Linked DNA regions of Homo sapiens: regions 1 and 3 are each linked to region 2. Evidence: fine-mapped expression QTL. A gene starts in region 2. Each other region holds a variant in brackets. All regions are shown on one strand. Distances are from middle to middle. Region 1 overlaps DNER (delta/notch like EGF repeat containing). Region 2 holds the start of DNER (delta/notch like EGF repeat containing). Region 3 overlaps DNER (delta/notch like EGF repeat containing).

The links. PIP is the estimated chance that this variant, and not a neighbour inherited with it, causes the effect.
Region 1: its variant is fine-mapped to the expression of DNER in sun-exposed skin (GTEx, PIP above 0.99). The same link has a PIP of 0.9 or more in aorta, fibroblasts, tibial nerve and unexposed skin.
Region 3: its variant is fine-mapped to the expression of DNER in atrial appendage (GTEx, PIP 0.97).

The regions. Positions count from the first base shown.
Region 1 is chr2:229,443,839-229,446,595 of GRCh38, forward strand. The region is part of intron 8 of DNER (delta/notch like EGF repeat containing); the gene reads right to left. Among named protein-coding and RNA genes, the nearest start is that of PID1, 170 kb to the left of the region's middle. The variant G/C (reference allele first, on the strand shown) is at 1,256.
Region 2 is chr2:229,713,207-229,715,963 of GRCh38, forward strand. It overlaps DNER (delta/notch like EGF repeat containing), which reads right to left and starts at 1,349. Exons shown (of 13, transcript NM_139072.4): 1 at 942-1,349. The coding sequence starts at 1,217. RefSeq lists silencers at 1,180-1,289, 1,360-1,419 and enhancers at 1,257-2,031, 2,032-2,757.
Region 3 is chr2:229,655,269-229,658,025 of GRCh38, forward strand. All of the region lies in intron 1 of DNER (delta/notch like EGF repeat containing), which reads right to left. Among named protein-coding and RNA genes, the nearest start is that of DNER, 58 kb to the right of the region's middle. The variant T/C (reference allele first, on the strand shown) is at 1,357.

The DNA of each region.
Region 1 (2,757 bases), 270 kb before region 2:
ATTTCACATTCACAGACTTGTCATGTTCACCTCTTAAAATGTAAGTTCTTGCCTGGTGTTAAGATGCCTTTTTTATTTTACACAGTCACCTAACAATCTGAAGAAACATCCCCTCTGAAGGCAGTTTCAGCTCCCAGGTTCAACAAGAGGGCCCTGTCACGATTACAAGGCTCTGCTTTGAGACTGCTGAACAAATGAAGGGATCATGTTCATTCCACGAACAGAATGCACACGTCTTCAGGCTTTTCAAGGCTATTAAGGGGCTACTGCTGGACCACAGACAATTATCAAGTCAAACGCTCCAAGTGGGCATGAATGTTTTAGCAGAGAATAGACGGAAGGAAAGTGGAAATTAAACAGGAGTGATTTCACCCCCACATAGCTCGAGAATCCTGCTGGAATCTCCACGGACAGAAAGAAAGAAGAGCTTTCACTAGTCCATGCCAGGAAATGGGCTGCCTGCCTCTCATTTCATGCTCTGACATATAACTCTCCTCTCTTTTCTGATAGAGGGGAAAACTGAGTCCCAGAGATGCCTGTAAATTTCCTATGGTTTTAGTCAATAAGCGAGGATGTTAGAGAGGTCCTTTCTACCACTCTCGGCTGCCTCTCCCAATGTGGAAAGAGAAACATCAGGCAGTATATTTTCTATTTGGTTGCCTCACACGTGTTGAAAAACTCTATTTGGTATTATTAAAAAACACTATTTATCTCTAACTCCCTTCAATTTTAAGTTTTAGAAATCAACTAACTATAAGAAAAAGTTTGGGTCAGGCATGGTGGCTCAGGCCTGTAATCCCAGCACTGTGGGAGGCCGAGGCAGGCAGATAACCTGAGGTCAGGAGTTCAAGACCGGCCTGGACAACATGGTGCAACCCTGTCTCTAGTAAACATACAAAAATTAGCAGGGTGTGGTGGTGGGAGCCTGTAATCCCAACTACTTGGGAGACTGAGGCAGGAGAATCGCTTGAACCCGGGAGGCAGAGGTTGAAGCCTGGGCAACAAGAGCAAAACTCCATCTCAAAAAAATTTTAAAAAAGAAAAAGTTTGATATAATTAAGAAAAGAAGTCAGAGGAGAAAGGGAGGAGAAAATAAAGTTGTTTTCTGGTCTTACAATATTTAATTCTTCTTTGTGGGGCTTCACAGAGAGAACGGAACTCTCAGGAGACAGGTAATAAAGTATTAAGGAAGTTTTTGTTCAGAATGCTGCTGAGGGGTATTTTCACATGTGTTACGACATCCAGAGCAGAGCTG[G/C]GAACAGCGTGCTCGTGAGTCAGTACGTGAGTAAGCCTCTGTTCTTCCAGCACAATTGCAGCTTGTTTAGTTTGCAAACACAAGTTGTCTCAGTGATCCACATTCCCAATAGGTAAGGGCCAGCGCCACACTGCCTCCTCCCACAGGACACGCAGCTCACAGCATGTGAGCCCGAATCCACATGGAAGAAAACTGGACCCTCTGAGGGGCAGCTATTCCTGTCTCCACCCTGGCTCTGAAGGAGAGCATGGAGGTCAACCAAGAAAAATATCCTCATGTCAAACACAGTGGAGAAACTGTTTCACTTCAAGGTTTATGAGATCCAAAAATGTTACTGCGATAGTTCATTTCGGGTGTCAACTTGGCTAGGCCATGGTTCTTAGATACTCGCTCAAACACTAATCTAGATGTTGGTATGAAGGTGTGTTTTAGATGAGATTAACGTTTAAATCAGCAGACTTTGAATGAAGCAGATGACTCTCCAGAATGTGCGTGGGCTGCATCCAAACAGCTGAGGACCTTAAGGACAAAGACTGAGGTTTCCCAAAGAAGAAATAATTCAGCTCAAGACACAACACAGAAACCTCGCCTGAGTTTCCAGCCTGCCAGCTTCCCTACGGATTTTGGACTTGTGAGTCCACACAATTGCATGAGCCAGTTACTTAAAATAAATCTCTCTCTCTCTCCTCGCTCTCTGTCTCCTGTTTCTCCGGAGAATCCTAACTACTAACATTGTTACAAAGCAGATTAAACAGCCCTATTCCCTCTGAATGTCAGAGCAGAGAGGAAAGAGGCACTTGGCAAAATATCAGTTGCTTAGAAAATCGGGGAATTAAGAGTCTATGTGAAAAAAGGCTTTTCAACACCATTCAAGTGCCAAATTGCATTTCTCAGTAACTTGTTGAGTTATTCGTTGAGTATGAGACATGCCCTTTGGAAGTTCCAGGCCAGGCACTGGAGCAGCAAAACCAGGGACACCGGCATTCGAATCTGGGCTCAGCCCCCATTCTGGGTGTGTAGCCACAGGCACATGACTGAACCTCTAGAGGCATTTCAAACCTTGGTGTAAATGTGACACTAAAAAGACCAGAGATGTGAAGCACCCGGCTCAGAATCTAGAAAGATCAGTGCTCACTAAATAGTGGCTTAGGGTGATTGCTGCTGATACAAAAGCTATTAATAAAACACAGTTCCTCCCAGCCCTAAGGAGGAGAGAGACACATACAAGGATAATTAATGTTCTGTTTCCAAGACCACAAAAGTGATATTGTAGGTGACTGTCGGAACCCAGAGGAAGGGAAACTGAGTCAGCCCCAGAAGTAGAAGTTTGTACAGTGAGGTGGGGTAACGGGGAGCACGCATTCCAGCTAGAGGCCATTGCACCAGCAAAGCCAGGGTCAAGCCAAACCAGATACTGGCCAGCCATACTGACTGGCCAGGGAGATGTGTGGGGATTCATTGTGCTGGGAAGCTTTCTAAAGAGCCAGCTCGTGTAAGGATGG
Region 2 (2,757 bases):
GGATTTTCTACCCGTACACACAGTCCTACCAAATTGCCTACTGGAAATGTTGATGTTAATAGGTTTCACAGAGCTTTAACGGACTTGTAAAAGCCCCAGATATTATTTTCTGCCAAATTCTCCTGAAAACCCCAAATTCACGGGCGGCTGCTGGCTACATCCCATCGTCCCATCCCTCGCACCGCCCCCACGCTTTCTGGCGGCTTCCCGGTGCCCTGCTCACGCCCCGGCTGCCAGCCCCAAGCGTGCGCCCCGTGGAGCGTCCGGCAGGAAGGGCGGCCCTGCCAGCGCCACGTACAATGCCCCCTCGAATGCCTCCGACTGTTCCAACACTGCTCCTAAGCTTAGAGAGGGCTGGTCGCAGGCCGAGGGGAGGCAGCTGCCCTCCTCGTCCTCTGGCTGCTTTGTCACAGCCCTCAAGGGCGTAGGAAGAGAAGGAGAAAGTGCCCCACCACCTGGCACGGGGCCCACCATCACCTGCCTCCCACACCGCACACCCTTTACACACACAGGGTCCAGCCGGACGTGGAGCGTGGACCACCTGGACATTGAACACCTCGCCGGGGACGCTCGGAGCCGGCTCCTCCGCGCTGCCAAGGCGGGCACCGCTCAAGTGGTTCTTGGCTCGGCCCGGCCTGGAGGGGCGCGCCACTCAGTGGCCAACCGGAGCGTCTAGAGCCCCGCGCGAGAAGTGCCGAGCCCCGGAGCGGCACACCCCGAGAGCCCGGCTGGCCCCGCCCGGGAACCAGGGCGGGTAAGGGAATCAGGGTCGGCCCGGGGGTCCGCGTCCACGCGGGCCAAGAGACTGGATCCATCTTCTTCCCAAAGTGGGAAAGCCTGTGTCAGGCGTGCCCATTGTCGGGCAGCAGCAGCAGGGCCGGCGGGAAGAGGCTGCTGGTCCCGGACCAGCGCCCCGCACCGCGCCCGCCGCTTCCACTCACCTGGCAGTTGGCGCCGGAGATCCCGGCGGGGCAGGTGCAGCTGTAGCCAGGCTCGCCGGCGGGGGCCGGGTGCTGCGGGTCCGGCTCAGGGCGCGAGGTGCACACACCCCCATTCCGGCAGGGCTGCGCGGCGCACGGCCCGGGCGCAGACAGGGGCGCGGCGGGCACCGGGTTGGCCAGGGAGCTGCCTCGGGGCCCCGCTCCGAGCAGCAGCAGCAGCAGGGCCAGCGCGGGCAGCAGCTGCGCACCGGGCGCCTGGGCGCGGCGGGGCTGCATGGCCGGCCGGGAGGGCGCGGGAGCCGGAGCCAGGACGCAGTGACGGCGGCGGCGGTGGCAGTGGCGACGAGAGCTGCGAGAGCGACGGTGGCGGCTAGGGCTGCTCCGCCGGGCCGGGCGCCTCCTGCAGCTGCGGGATCCGCGGTTCCCCGGGCAACGGCGGGCGGGGCCTGCGGGGCGGGGCGGGGCGGGGCGAGCGGGGGGCGGGGCGCCTGGCGGCCCCGGCTCTGGAGCATCGGGGAGTGGGGCCTCTTTCCCCGCAGGGAGTTGGGATGGGGGTTGCAGGAAGACGATGCGGGACCCCATCCCCCAGGAGTGGGTCGAAGTCACGGGTGTGTCCAGAAGCAGCCCTGGTACAGGGAGCCAGGCGACGCTGGGGCAGGAAAGGGGCTGGAGAGGTCCACGAGTGAGGGAAGCGGGGCTTTGAGGGGCTTCCAGAGCCGGGAGCACCGAGTGCGCCCCAAGGCCCGGGCAGGGCAGGGCGCGGGAGGCGGCAGGGCGCCTCAAGGGAGGGGCGGCGCGCTCGCAGCAGCCACCTTTGGCCTCTTGGCGCAGAATCTGCGAGACCGCCGCGGGGCCCGGCCTTGCCTCATCCCCCGGGACTGCTCCCCTTCCCACAGCGCTTCTCCCGGCACCCCAAGCCCTCCCGCCCGGCCACGGAACCCTGCGCCCGACGCTTGCTCAGCAGCCGGGTTCGCCTGGAAGTGACCTCGCCTCCGCCAGGCGGACCCGGGGCCCTTGTCCTTGGTGCTGACCCAGCTGTCTCATTCTCGCCGGCCCTTTCCAGAGCGCGGGGCCTTGCCGCACCACTAAGGAACGTCTGGCCGCGCCGTGTGAGGCCGGGAAGAGGCCTTGGTGTAAGGCTGTCCACCCCTGTCGTTGAACCTAGGGGGAAACTGAGGCCCAGAAAGTCTGGATTCGAATCCAGTGGGTCAATTGACTCCCAGCCCAGAACGCCCGAAAGAACAGTTCAAAAGCCCAGGTTGGCAGAGGCGCTGCTAGCGGCAGGAATCGCAACAGGGGACTCTGCATAAAAGGAGCATTCGCTGTGACCTACTTCGGAGGGGATGGGGGGGGCGGGCTCTTCTACACGTCCTGGCTGGGCTGGCTGGTGCTGCGACCGCCAAGGAGGCTGCACTCCGCTGAATAAAGCGCATCCAGCCTTGTCTCCTCCACCTGACCTTTCACAATCTCTATTACCTGTGGGTTCCCAGGTACCTGTTACCTTCTTTTTAAGGTGGCCAAATGAAAAAAGAAAATGTGATTCCCCTGGATTGACAGTCTGGGCCAATTTTTTTTTTAGTAAACACAAAAATAGCTTGTTTTGTTTTTTAAAAAAATTAAAGTAAGGACTCCATGTGAACTTCTGCTGTAGGTGTCACAGACGCCAGGGATTGCTAAAAGTCCTCCAGTGGAAACAGAAGGCAAACTGCACGGCTTCTCCCTGTCCTGTTCAAACGCAGAAGCAAATGTCACACTTTTCTGCTTCAGGAGATACCTAAAATTCATGTGGCCATTGCAGGAAATCACTGAACCCCAG
Region 3 (2,757 bases), 58 kb before region 2:
TTTTTAAGTTAAAAAATAAAGAAAGCAGAAGGAATGAATTCAAAAGAGGGACTGGTAAAAAAAGAAAACAAAATGTAAGAAATGATAACTAAGACCAGAAAAGCATCTTTTAAAAACCTCCTGGAGTGTTAGGGGTGAGAGAGGATGCGATTTAAATACCATCAGACTCAGGAAAAGAGAGGAGATTTCACCAGGTTTTCACAAGCCTAAGATCCAGGAGTGCAGAGGCAAATACGACAGTTCAGAAGGTCTAAATTCACTAAATCGATCATTTAGTGAATGGCTTTTGGTCCTTCATTTAAAAAGAACTTGGTTGAATTTGGAATACATAAAAGAAACTAAGAGATGTATTAAGAGTAGACTGAACGGTGACCACCCCCACAAAATGTCATGTCCATGTCCTAACCCCCAAAACCCATGCATTGTGACCCTGTTGGGAAAAGGGGGTCTTTGCAGATGTGACTAAATTAAGGATTTGCAGAGGAAATCATCCTGGATTGGGTGGGTCCTAAATGCAATGGCAAGTCCTAAGAAGGGAAGAAGAGAAAGGAAGGGAAAGGAAGAGAAGAGAAGGGGTGGGTGGGAAACAGACACAGCAACACAGGAAAGAAGGCCGTGTAAAGACCCACATGAAGATGAAGGCAGGCATTCACGTTAAGCTGCCACAACCCAAGGAATACCAGAAACCACTAGAAACTGGAAACAGCAAAGAAGAATCCTCCTCTAGACCCTAGAGTGTCTGGAGGAAGCCTGGCCCCACCCACACCTTGATGCCTGACTATGGCCTCAAGAACTGTAAGAGAATACACTTCCATTGTCTTAAGCCACCCAGCGTGTGATAATGTATTACTGCAGCCCTAGGAAATTAATACAGGCACCTGAGCCATTAATGAAGTAATTGTGAAAAGCCATCCTTTGCCTGTGGTTACCACATGTGACCTGCAGTCTCATGGGAAACAGGTATCATCCACATGGCCAGAAGCAGAAGCTTTCAGATTGAAGAGACCTAGGCTGAATCCAGATTCTGACAATTACTCACAGTGTGGCCTTGGACATGTTTCTTGACCTCTCTGTACCTCAAGGTCATCTCTAAAAAGGTGAGCAGCAAAAAACAGTCCCTACCTCATACTGTTGTTGGGAATGAATGGGATCACCTCTGGAAAAGTGCAAGGTGAGGGGCAGACACATGGTGAGATTCATTCCCTACCACTAAGCGTGGGCTGAGCTCCAGCTCAGCCAACCACAATGTGAGCCTGGGGATTGGAGGACGAGGAAGGGAAAAGCTCACTGCAAGGGAACCAGCATCTAGCCCCTCGAACCTGTTATTCTCGGTACATTTCTTGTCAATAATTAAAA[T/C]AACTCCACTGCCTTGATAGCCACACTTCTATTTATAACACTTAAAATTATCAGCTTCATTCCACTCTCACACCTAGACACTTACTCATTCATTCTCACAGGAGGAGTTTAATTTCAGCAAATGTGTTTTTGAGAGATTTTGATGTCCTGGAGCTATGAAACTATAATGTAATTCATTTACTTTCTGAAAAACATGAAGGCAATGATTTTTCTCTTTTTTTCTGGCCTTGTTGAGGCATACTTAAGAAATTAAAATTGTATATATTTGAAGTATACGACATAATGACTTAATACACATATATATTGTAAAGTGATTACCAAGTCAAGGTAATTAACAAGACCATCACATCACAGTTACCACGTGTGTGTGTGTGTGTGTGTGTGTGTGGTGAGAACATGCCAAGATCTACCCTCTTAGCACATTTCAAGTAAACAATACAGTATTACTAATGGTGGTCCCCATGTTGTACCTTCAATCCCAGAACTTATTCATCTTAAAACTGAAAATTTGATCCACGTCTCCACCTTTCCCCACCCCTCAGAACCACTGTTCTGCTTTCTGCTTCTGTGAGTTTGATTTTTTTAGACTCTACCTATAAGTGAGAATGCAATATTTGTCTTTCTGTTTCTGGCTTATTTCATTTAGCATAATGTCCTCCAGGTTCATCCATGTGGTCACAAAGGGGAGGATTTCCTCATTTTTTTGTGGTTGAAAAATATTCCAATGTATATAGATACCACATTTTCTTTATCCATTCACCTGTCAATGAGCATTTAGGTTGGTTCTATACCTTGTCTACTGTAAATAATGCCGCAGTGAACACAGGGATACAGATAAGCAACATGGAAGTTCCTCAAAAAACAATTTTAGGACCGTGATTTTTCAATTTCAACACTACATGACATAAGTAACAAAAGGAGAGTTGTTAGGGTCCTAAAGATACCTACCTCCAGATGTTTTATCTTCATTAGCTAAGTAATAGTCAACATGCATTCAAATGTTTGCTTAGTGCCATACGATGTGACAAGAAGATGATACGTAAGGCCTAAGCAACTCGTTATTTTTGGAAACATGACCTCTTTCAACCTAGTTCTTGTATCCAGACTCTCACAACAGCTTCTCCATCTCTGAGAGCTAAAATACCTGCCGGGTGGATAAGCAGTCATACCCAGGCCAGCCAGCAGCTCTCCTAAATTTGGAGGGAGAAATCCATTCAGGAGTGCGATGATAGAGTCAGGCTTGCAACTTCCTAAATTTCAGGGATACCTGCATTTCAAGGGAATTTCATGATCATTAATTTAAAAAAAAAACTGGTTCTTCCTTATAGGCCTTAAAAACATGTAAAATGTCCCTAAGTCAATGATTTGAGAACAAGAAGATTAAAAATGAAACAGTGAATT